Linked DNA regions of Homo sapiens: region 1 is linked to region 2. Evidence: fine-mapped expression QTL. A gene starts in region 2. The other region holds a variant in brackets. All regions are shown on one strand. Distances are between the middles of the regions. Region 1 overlaps ELOVL6 (ELOVL fatty acid elongase 6). Region 2 holds the start of ELOVL6 (ELOVL fatty acid elongase 6).

Region 1 (5,374 bases), 33 kb after region 2:
GTAACTTGGAAAAGGTGGGACACCTGGTGATTGGCAGAGTGAGGCTTCAAACCCAGGCAGTCTAGGTCCACACTGCCTGTCCACAGAGTCTGGGTCTCTCCTGCTTTGGCTTATGACGTCAGCACCTACTGGGAAAATTACAGAAACCATTTTCAAAGGTGATATTTTGAAAAGCATATGGTGGGGCTCATTTTGTTTAAATGAGCTCTGCACAATGAAAGCACGTGAGAGCAGTTTTTGAAAAAGTTCTGATTGCATCCATTGAATTTGACTTTTTTTTTTTTTCTTTTTTAGACAGTCTTGCTCTGTCGCCCAGGCTGGAGTACAATGGCACGATCTTGGCTCACAGCAGCCTCTGCCTCCTGGGTTCAAGTGATTTTTGTGCCTCAGTCACCCAAGTAGCTGGGATTACAGGCATGCAACACCATGCCTAGCTAACTTTTGCATATTTTTTTAGTAGAGACGGGGTTTCGCCTTGTTGCCCAAGCCGGTCTCGAACTCTGGGCTTCCAGCAATCTGCCCACCTCAGACTCCCAAAGTGCTGGGATTACAGGCATGAGCCATCACACTGGCCTGAATTTGACCCTTACTCTAATGATTTATAGCCATATAATTCTCATGCAATAAGCTAAAAATACACCTAAAAATGATTTACTCTCAAAGGGTTTTAACTTTTTTTCATTGAATCTCTTTTATGTTCACTTAAATTTTGGCTCTGTTCATAAATTGATACAAAGACAAAATTTCCACTAAAATATTAATCTTAAGTAGTAGACGTTTTCTAACTATACCTTCCAATTGGAATTAAGCATTTAATCTAAAATTATATATCAAAAATACAAGAAAGAACTTCCTTAATTGCCTGGATATGTTTCTGCCTCTCAAGGCCTCAGAAAGTTTTGTACAAACTGTTAGAATAGCCCTAATCATGGAGATAGGTGTTTTATTTTTTCTCTCCAAAAGCATAAGAGAGGTTGGGTGCAGCAGCTCACGCCTGTAATCCCAGCACTTTGGGAGGCCAGGGTGGGAGGATGGCTTGAGGCCAGGAGTTTGAGACCAGCCTGAGCAGCACAGGGAGACCCTGTCTCTACATACAAACATACATACATACATACATACATACATACATACATACATACATACATACATACATAACTGAGGTGGTGGCAGGCACCCTGTAGTCCCAGCTACTTGTGGAAGCTGAGGATCATTGCACCACTGCACTCCAGCCTGGGCAACAGAGTGAGACTCTGCCTCAAGAAAATAAATAAAATTTATAATGTTCCCCCTTCACTCCCCTCTCTGCAACCAAAAAAACATCCTTTAGTAACTCTTATGTAACCATTAAAACTATATTATAGAAGAATATATCTTGACAAAAAAAATGTATACCACATGTTGCAGAAAACTCTGCTTATGAAACAGCATGTATAATAACAAGGCCAATTTGTAAACACACACAGAGAGAGACATATTTACAGTTAGTATAAGGTTAAGTACTTAACGCTGTATGTACTAAAACACAAGTCCTTTTACTGTGCATGTAAAAATACTCTAATAGCGATTACATTTTGAAGATGGGATAAAGTTTTTATTCCTGAGAACCAGAAGTGTGTCTCAATGCACCTAATATTTTTGCCAGTGGAGAGATACTGAAACCCTGTGATCTTCAGCTACTGTGTGCATTCAGACTGTTTGGTCTTCTTGGGTCAAGTCAGCTGGTGATTACTAAATGATGAGAGTGTGCCTGACATGCAGGAGACAGGTGAGAAGACAAAGAAATAGAAGGCAATGTCCTAGCATTGGCAGACAGACAGACCCTCTGTATATATTTCAACTTATTTGGATCACAGTCTGTTTAGGAAGGCAGATGTACATGCAAAATACAGTAGAATGCTACAGAAAAAGAACAAATATTCCAGTGCTGGAATATAGTATTATAGTAACTATAGTATAGAAAATCACTATGTGCTAAGAAATTTAGAAACACTCCAGCAAAAGGCAGGGACTTTGAGAGCTAATAGTTGGGTTGATGAAAAAGGAAGACGGAGTTTCCTTTCATGGTGGTAGCACCAGAATACTCATGATGTCTTATATGCTAACCATGAGGGCTGACCATGCTGAGATTAACAGGCAGTGTTCATTGCCTTCTGGCAGCAAGGGCAAAAGTGGAAACACAAGAATTTTTTCTTTTTTTTGAGACGGAGTTTCACTGTCACCAGGCTGGAGTGCAGTGGCGCGATCTCGGCTCATTTACAACCCCTCCTCCCGGGTTCAAGCGATTCTCCTGCCTTAGCCCTTCTAGTAGCTGGGACTACAGGGCGCGTACCACCACACCCAGGTAATTTTTATATTTTTAGTAGAGATGGGGTTTCACGGTTGTTGGCCGGGATGGTCTCGATCTCTTGACCTCGTGATCCACCTGCCTTGGCCTCCCAAAGTGCTGGGATTACAGGCGTGAGCCACCGCGCCTGGCTGAAACACAAGAATTTAAGAGAATTCTTGTTATCTGAAAAGAAAGGTGATGTCTCATTATTGCTCAAGTAAGTTAAGAACAAACCAAGGTCCTAGCCCAAAGACAACAACATTTGAAGGAAAATCAGGGATATAATGTCAAAGAACACTGCAGTCCAGGGGCGAAATGAATGTGCCTTGAGCAACTTCTCTAGGATCTCACTTGATAGCAGGCTGGGATTTATAGTACCCAGGGGAAGGCTGACAGTATCTTTCCTCCAGATCAGCTCTGAGCTGGGCTTTTGTTGATAAGCTGTCCCAGGAGTGCTGAGGCTCTGTCACTGACAGAGGAGGCAGATGTATTGAAAGCAGGATCGTGGGTTGATAATTTGTTAGGGATGTAGAGAAGCCTAACTGGTTTTCTTACGTGGAAAAGACCACCCTCTTTTCCCACTTCCCAGATGTGCTAAACTCTTCTGGCAGAGGATATAGGATTGTCCTTGGGGAATTAGCCTTGGGTTCACTCCAATGCATGGGTAAATGTTTGGTTTTGCAAGGCAGGTGTTACCTGGCCAGCTCCACATACTTTATTACAAAAATCCTCCTGTTAGTTCTGACAGGAATGCATCATAATTGTTATTTTATAGTTGAGGAAGCTGACTCTCAAAGAAGTGATTAACTCATCTCTGTGTGTGATTCAGATGAGATTAGAAC[C/T]GCCCAGCTCCTGAGACCATGCTACTTCCTGCCTACCACAGCCACATGTGCTACAGAGAACAAAGCTGAAGTGCAGGCTGCTGTGTCTCTGAGCTAGACAACCTGAGCTCATCCCTCCTGTTTCTTGCAGTGCTATTAAAATGGAGGATTTGATGAGCAGCAGTAGCTGAGAGGAGAATCAGCCTGGCCTGACTAAGGTTTATGTGGGGTTTGAGGAATAAAGTTGGGTTGTGAGGGTCGATTGGAAGCTTGGAAGCCAGGCTAAGGAGTTGGAGTAGGTCTGCTAGACAGGAAGGAACCACAAAATCAGGAACATAATGGTGGAAGGGCCTCCTGTAAATTGTCGATACTTAACTATTTTGGCCTATGAATGGCAATAGCACATGGTTCCACTAAACAGGTGCCCTGGTATTGTTTTCTGTGAGAGGATAATGGAGAGGGTTGCTTATAGTTTGTAGATATCTAGCAAATGGTCTGTTTTGCTAGTCCAGCTAGTCAGAAACCAGTCCTCTTTTTGAAGAATAGAGATCAAACCTGCTCTACAAGCTTATATGTTTACCACAATTTGGGTGGCATGATAAAGACTAAATGCACAGAAAGGCCACATACCACATTACATTCAGGAAATCCTTTCTTAGTTGGGTGTGGTGGGGTGCACGTGTAGTCCCAGCTCCTCGAGAGGTTGAGGTGGGAGGATTGCTTGAGCCTGGGGGGCAGAGGTTGTAGTGAGCTGTGATTGTGCTACTGCACTCCAACCTGGGCAACAGAGTGAGACTCTGTCTCAAAAAAAAGAAATTCCCCAAAACAAGAAATTCTTTCATCAGAAATAAATGAGCAGCCTACCAACCCACCTGCCTTCCAACCTGAGTGTTTTTTTTTTTTTCTTTTTTTTTTTTTTTTTGAGACAGGGTCCCACTTTCACCCAGGCTGGAGTGCAGTGGCGTGATCATGGCTCATTGTAGCCTTGACCTCCCTGGGCTCAAGCGGTCCTCCCACCTCATCCTCCTGAGTAGCTGGGACTACAGGTGCATGCCACCACACCGGGCTAATTTTTCTATTTTTTGTAGAGATGGGCTTTCGCCACGTTGCCTCAGCTTGTTTCTGCCTTGGCTTCCCAAAGTGCTGGGATTACAGGCATGAGCCACCTCACCCGGCTGTGCTTGCTTTCTTGTGACAAATGTTCATGGCATCTTGTGGCAGACTTATGAAAGCTGAGTTAGGTCAAAGTGTTTCCTTAGTGCCTAGCTCAGAATACTCATGCTATACAAACCGTTTTACTTTTTCCTTTCCTAGGGTGGCCTTGGCTTCATCTTCCCTCACCTTAACTTGTCATCAGGGCAGCAGTGTATCAAACTCTGGGACCTGTGGATTCAGACACAGTTTCAATTCTGCCTTTGCTACTTAATGACTTGGTGAACTTGAGCACATTCATTAACCTCCCTAGGCCCCCATTTCTAAGTGTGAAATTGAGATAATCAAATTAGGCTGTAGTAATAATTAAACTAGTTAAGGTGTGTCAATGGCTTACAAAATGTCCAGCACTTTCTAGGCTCTCCATGAAAAGTAGCTTTTACTGGCATGACTCTCAGCAGATATTTTAGTATTATTTTGCTTTCAACTGAGTAATGAATTCCTAGCCAACATTTTTGAACTTCTCATTACACATTCAGAAATGTCATGTCACAACCAGGGCTAAGAACTTTTCATTGCTCCCAAATTGCCTGTCACTATGACTCAGATTTACCCACCTGATAAGGAAGATTCCTTGACCTTAACTCACCATTCGATCTTACAGTTAGTTCTCCCATTGCTCTATAAGTATCTTATGACCCTGGCAAATTAAACCACTGGAATATCTCTCTTCTTTCTCTATTTCTGAAACTTAGAAAGCCCAACTCAGTGCTGCCACCTTCATACAACCTTTTAAGGTTTTGAACTTTTAATCTTAAACTCTTCCATTTTTGCTTTTCATTTGGCAGTGGTAGATTTTCTCATATTAAAGTCAGTTGTGACTTGTATATCACCCTTCTAGCATTTTATACTCATTGATGATAAGACTTGGCCTTCATCCCAGTCTGCTACACTATGCGGTCAGTCCATAACTGTTAAATTTCAGTGACTCAGTTTGATGAATATTTATTGAGGAGCCTGTATTTGCCAGACTCTGTTCCAGGCACAAGGCCGCTGTTCTCAGAGACCGTTCATA
Region 2 (5,374 bases):
TGTCAGGGGTTCAAGACCGTCCTGGCCAACATGGTGAAACCCTGTCTGTACTAAAAATACAAAAATTAGCTGGGCATGGTGGCACATTCCTGTAATCCCAGCTACTTGGAAGGCTGAGACAGGAGACTCACTTGATCCCAGGAGGCAAAGGTTGCAGTGAGCCGAGATCGCGCCACTGCACTCCAGCCTGGGCAACAGAGGGAGACATCATCTCAAAAAAAAAAATAATTCTGGTGAATTAATGGTGTGGATTTAAAATTGTGATATATGCTGGGTGCCTATAGTCCTAGCGTGGAAAACATAACAAGTCCCCATCTCTAAAAAATAAATGAAATTATCATATAGGCTGCCAAATTGCTTTCCATACAGAGTCACCAGTTTTCAAAGTCACTGACAGTGCTTGTTTGTTTTTGAGATAAGGTCTCACTCTGTCACCCAAGCCGGACTGCAGTGGTGTGATCATGGCTCACTGCAGCCTTGACCTCCCAGGCTCAAGCTATCCTCCCATCTCAGCCTCCAGAGTAACTGGGATTACAGGCATGTACCACCACACCTGGCTAATTTTTAATTTTTTGTAGAGATGGAGCCTCACTATGTTGCCCAGTCTGGTCTCTAGCAATTGTCTTGCCTCAGCCACCCAAAGTGGATTTTCTGTCTTGATTCCTTTCTCACTTCTTACCTTAATTTATTTGATGAATCATTCACTTTACAAATATTTATTGATTATTCACAGGCTCAGGCACCGTGCTAAAATGGTTCTTTCTTATCTGGCCACACCTATCTTCCAGCCCAATCTTGCCAAGAGTTTTGGCCTGGGCCTTACTTCAAAGTGACGTAGACTTGTACTGTAGAGGTCTCTAGAAAGACAACCCTTGGCTGGGCATGGTGGCTCATGCCTGTAATCCCAGAACTTTGGGAGGCTGAGACAGGTGGATCACAGCCAGCCTGGCCAACATGGTGAAACCCCATCTCTACTAAAAACACAAAAATTAGGCGGGCGTGGTGGTGCTTGCCTATAATCCCAGCTACTGGGGAGGCTGAGGCAAGAGAACCATTTGAACCTGGGAGGCGGAGGTTGCAGTGAGCCGAGTTTGCACCACTGCACTCCAGCCTGGGCAACAGGGCGAGACTCCTCCATCTCAAAAAAAAAAAGAAAAAGAAAAAAGAAAGACAACCCTTAATGGGGGAGATGAGGACAGTCCCTACACAGAATCTTTGGCAGTGTCAATGTATACATTAATTTGCTAATCAACTAGGCTAGCCCTTTAATCTATATATTGTACTGGATTTTAAAAATTATTTCTTTACTTTCTCATTAGACCTTCCTCTTTTTTTTTTTTGTTTGTTTGTTTGGAGACAGAGTCTCCCTCTGTCGCCCAGGCTGGAGTGCAGTGGCAGAATTTTGGCTCACTGCAACCTCTACCTCACGGGTTCAAGCGATTCTCCTGCCTCAGCCTCCTGAGTAGCTGAGGTTACAGGTGCCCGCCACCACGCCTGCCTGATTTTTATATTTTTAGTAGAGACGGAGTTTCACCATGTTGGCCAGGCTGTTTTGAACTCCTGACCTCAGGTGATCCGCCCACCTCGGCCTCCCAAAGTGCTGGGATTACTTCTGTGAGCCACCACCGCGGCCGGTCCCTTCCTCCTTTAAAAATTTTTCTCCCAGTTCCCACTTTTTGTGGGTTAGAGGCATCTAAATTGAATGAAAGTACCCTTTTTGGACTACTGGGGAGGTGGGGGGATGTTCTCAGAAGGGGAATTTTCTTTCTGGTCCTAATATCCACCTAATTTTTAAAAGCAGGGCTCCTTATTATTTTGTAAAGTTTACAATTACATCATTAGATACTTCCATGTCTCATATTTCATTTTTCCAAACTCTTGGGGGAAATGAGTGGAGGGATGGATGGAATAGAAAATAGTTTTTCCTCTTGGAGGCTGAGGGCCCAGTAGGGGTCAACAGTACATTCAGCCCTCTCCTCACATATTCTGTTCTACCTACAAGTACAGCAAGTAAAGCCAAATTTCTCATGCATGCAAATAAAGTTTTTGCATTTGGCCAGTCGGTCCAGTTCTCCTGTCAGCTTCCTTCCCCACTCTGCCTCTGTTCATTAATCCCCCCCTTCCCGGTACCTAAACCCTCCACCTAACCCAGCCCTTTCTTCCACTTCCGGCTACTAGCCTCTCTCGCCTATCCACTATCCTCACACTCAGCATCCCCTGTCTGTACGAGATTAAGGAGCTCTGCCGTCCGCAGGGCCTGGGTTAGCGTGAATCTAAGCCAGAGCTCCCGGGTGGGGGTGGGGGTAGGGGTGGGGGTGGTCCCAGAGGTAGGGCGAGGAGGTGGGAAGCGTATTCCCTTCACTGGTGATCTCAACGTAGATTTGCCCGGAGTTCTCTTGCAAGAGAGCTGGCAGGTTTTACTATTTCCCAATCGTTTACTCGCCAAGCTCTCGGGTCCACGCGCCGCGGGGATGCGCCCTGCAAGCTGAAACTTCATTCAAAGCAAGGCGGCCCACGAGGTTGGGCTTAGGGGATCTGGATGACCTCCAGGCCACTTCCTTTCTCTCTGCGCCCTTCCCCCACTCTTCCAACCACCTTCGCTGTAAACAAAACTGTCCCCCCCGGGCGGAGAGAGGTCGCGCTCTTTCGCACACTCCCTCGCCAAGGGTTAATTTCTCAAATCGCACGAGGGGGAGGAGATTTCCCTGTAGACGAGTAAAAAGGGTGATGGACAAACGTGCGGGCACTAAGACCGCAAGGCATTCATTTCCTCCTACGGTGGATGCGGACGCCGGGAGGAGGAGAGCCCCAGAGAGAGGAGCTGGGAGCGGAGGCGCAGGCAATGCTCAGCCCTGGATGTAGCTGAGAGGCTGGGAGAAGAGACGACCGCTGGAGACCGAGCGGCGTGGGGAAGACCTAGGGGGGTGGGTGGGGGAAGCAGACAGGAGAACACTCGAAATCAAGCGCTTTACAGATTATTTTATTTTGTATAGAGAACACGTAGCGACTCCGAAGATCAGCCCCAATGAACATGTCAGTGTTGACTTTACAAGAATATGAATTCGAAAAGCAGTTCAACGAGAATGAAGCCATCCAATGGATGCAGGAAAACTGGTACGTGATGCTTTCGCCTGATACTGTTCCCGGGAGCCCTGCGCGTCTTCCCGGAGTGCCTTAATGTCGGTATTCCCTGCCTGGGCGTGAATGGAGCGATGAATCGCGGGCAGCCAGCTGATCGCTGAGTTCTCGGGTCTCCCGGGTGCAGGAGACGCTGGGGGGGGGGGGGTACATGAAGCGCGAGGTCTGTGGGTGCCCCTGTGTGAACCGCGGCTACATAGGCATCTTTTATATAGATTATATAACACAGAACATATGTGTGTGCACAGGGTGATGTCTGCGCGACAGGGAAGGCGGGAGAGATGCCACAGTCCAGATCGCCTACCTGTGCTCCCCTCCCCTCCCCCGGTTTTCATCTAGATTTGGGTTTTCTCGCTTGGCCTCTCCCGCAACCGGAGTGTGAAAGGCAGTGGAGGGAGGACCTTGTCTCCTGTTGCCTTTAACCCTCTCCCGCCCGCCGCCCTTGGCCCTGGTCCTCGCTGTCTCTCCATCCCTCGTGTCCTTCCTTTCTCCTTGCAGCGCTCCTACTTCACCGTCCTCCTCTGTCTGCCGCTCCTCAGGCGGATGCCCCCTTTTTAGTACCCCTTTCCCCACGCGGTTCCCTTTCCGGTTTCATAGAGAGACCGGGTGGGAGGGAGGAGGGGACAATGAAAACAGTAATAAATGAATGAACCCGAGCGAGTGGAGCCACGCCATTATTAAGTTTCTGTTTTACGGAAACGCCTTTTGGACACACTTCTAATTCTGTGCGTAGCTGCTGATTGGAGTTCAGGCACACAGATTAAAAGCCCCTCCGTCTGCAGAGTCCTTAGGGGCTCTTCCCTAGGAAACTAATAATCAGGGAAAACACCTTTCTTGTTTACTGTAGTCCCCCCGCCAGACCTTTTGAAAATCCCTGTGTGGGAGGCGATCCAGTGTCACCTTGCAATATTTAACAGAGGAGGGTGTGCTCATCTCGCTTCTTGTAGACAGGGTTGTGGCAGAGGCATTCCTCTCCTCCCCTTAACTTCGGGTCTGGCGATCTGTAAAGTTCAAGCCCAACGCACCCCGGAGCTAGGCAAGGGGCCGGCAGCCCGGGGGATGGCTTGACCGGGGAGGGTCGGGCCGCAGGGTCTCCCGGGAGCCGGGGGATTCCGCCCGCCGCGTGCGCGAGCGCGCGTGCCCCGCGCCCTCCCGCCTGCCCTCTTCAACTGGAAACCAGAAACGCCGGCGCGCCTGTGGCCTGGGCGGGTTGGTGCAGTAGGAGCTGGTGCCACGGGGCCGCAGCTGCGAAAAGGGGGTTTCAACTTCCTGTCCTCCAGCCCCCTGGAGTCGCCGGCCAGTGTCGGGAGGCCCGGCCGCCGCTTCCTTCTCCTCCCGCCCGGCCGGAGCGCGCCCACTCCCAGCTTCCCGCGGGCTGGTCCGGGCCCCAATGGCCATTTGCGGCGGCTGCCGGGCGGAGCCCGCCTCCTGGGCCGCGCGCACCGGCGGGGCAGGCCTGCTTGGGGTGAGCTGCGGCGTGGCTGGTGGCGGCGGTGGGCTAGGGGCCCAAGGGCCGCGTCTGGCCCGAGCCGGAGCCTAAGAGGCGGGGACGCGGGCCGCTCGGAAGGACTGGAAGTGCAGCAGCCACACAGGCACAGGGCTGGTGCCCTCCCGGGCCGCTGAGGCCAGGGGGTGCAGGGGTGGGTCCGGAAGGAGGTTGGACACTAAGGGTCGAGACCGCAGATAGACCTCGGCGTTTCGGGGCAGCCGAGGCCCCTCGAGCCCCACCGCCCGGGGTCCTTCTCTGGATGCACTTCCTCCTCCCGCTTAGGGGGTGGTGCTGGAGGCGGGGAGGGGGCGGTGGCCGGAGCCGGCGGGCGCCGGAACCGCGCTGCTGGCTAGCCCCGGGCCCGGGTCTTCTCCGCACATGTTTGTCATATCCTCCAGCCGGCCTGTTCGGGCCCACAGTCCTCCCGCATTAGCCTGTGTGGTCAGTGTGGTCAGCATTTGCTTCTGTGCCGAATCTCTGACTTGCTGCGTCCTGGTTTAACCTGCTCTTCCGGAGTCCGCTTTCCCTCGCTTTGCTGGCTGACCCCATTCACTGTACGCCCGCCATTCCTAGCCCACTGCAGTCGATACTGCCTCTTATTTACTTGTTGCTTTTTCTCTGAGGCCACTTCCTAGGCCTGCTTCAGGTACCATTTCCCGCCTCTTCTCTCCATTCACTCAGTACTGAGCCAGACAGGTCTCAGCCCTCGTGGGACTGAAAATGACAAAAATGTGCCAACGTATCTAC

Evidence for each region. PIP is the estimated chance that this variant, and not a neighbour inherited with it, causes the effect.
Region 1: its variant is fine-mapped to the expression of ELOVL6 in whole blood (TOPMed, PIP 0.98).

What each region holds. Positions count from the first base shown.
Region 1 is chr4:110,163,434-110,168,807 of GRCh38, reverse strand. The region is part of intron 1 of ELOVL6 (ELOVL fatty acid elongase 6); the gene reads left to right. Among named protein-coding and RNA genes, the nearest start is that of ELOVL6, 32 kb to the left of the region's middle. The variant C/T (reference allele first, on the strand shown) is at 3,169.
Region 2 is chr4:110,195,987-110,201,360 of GRCh38, reverse strand. It overlaps ELOVL6 (ELOVL fatty acid elongase 6), which reads left to right and starts at 2,746. Exons shown (of 4, transcript NM_024090.3): 1 at 2,746-3,114. The coding sequence starts at 3,026. RefSeq lists enhancers at 2,373-3,165, 4,754-5,048 and silencers at 4,080-4,709, 4,910-5,019.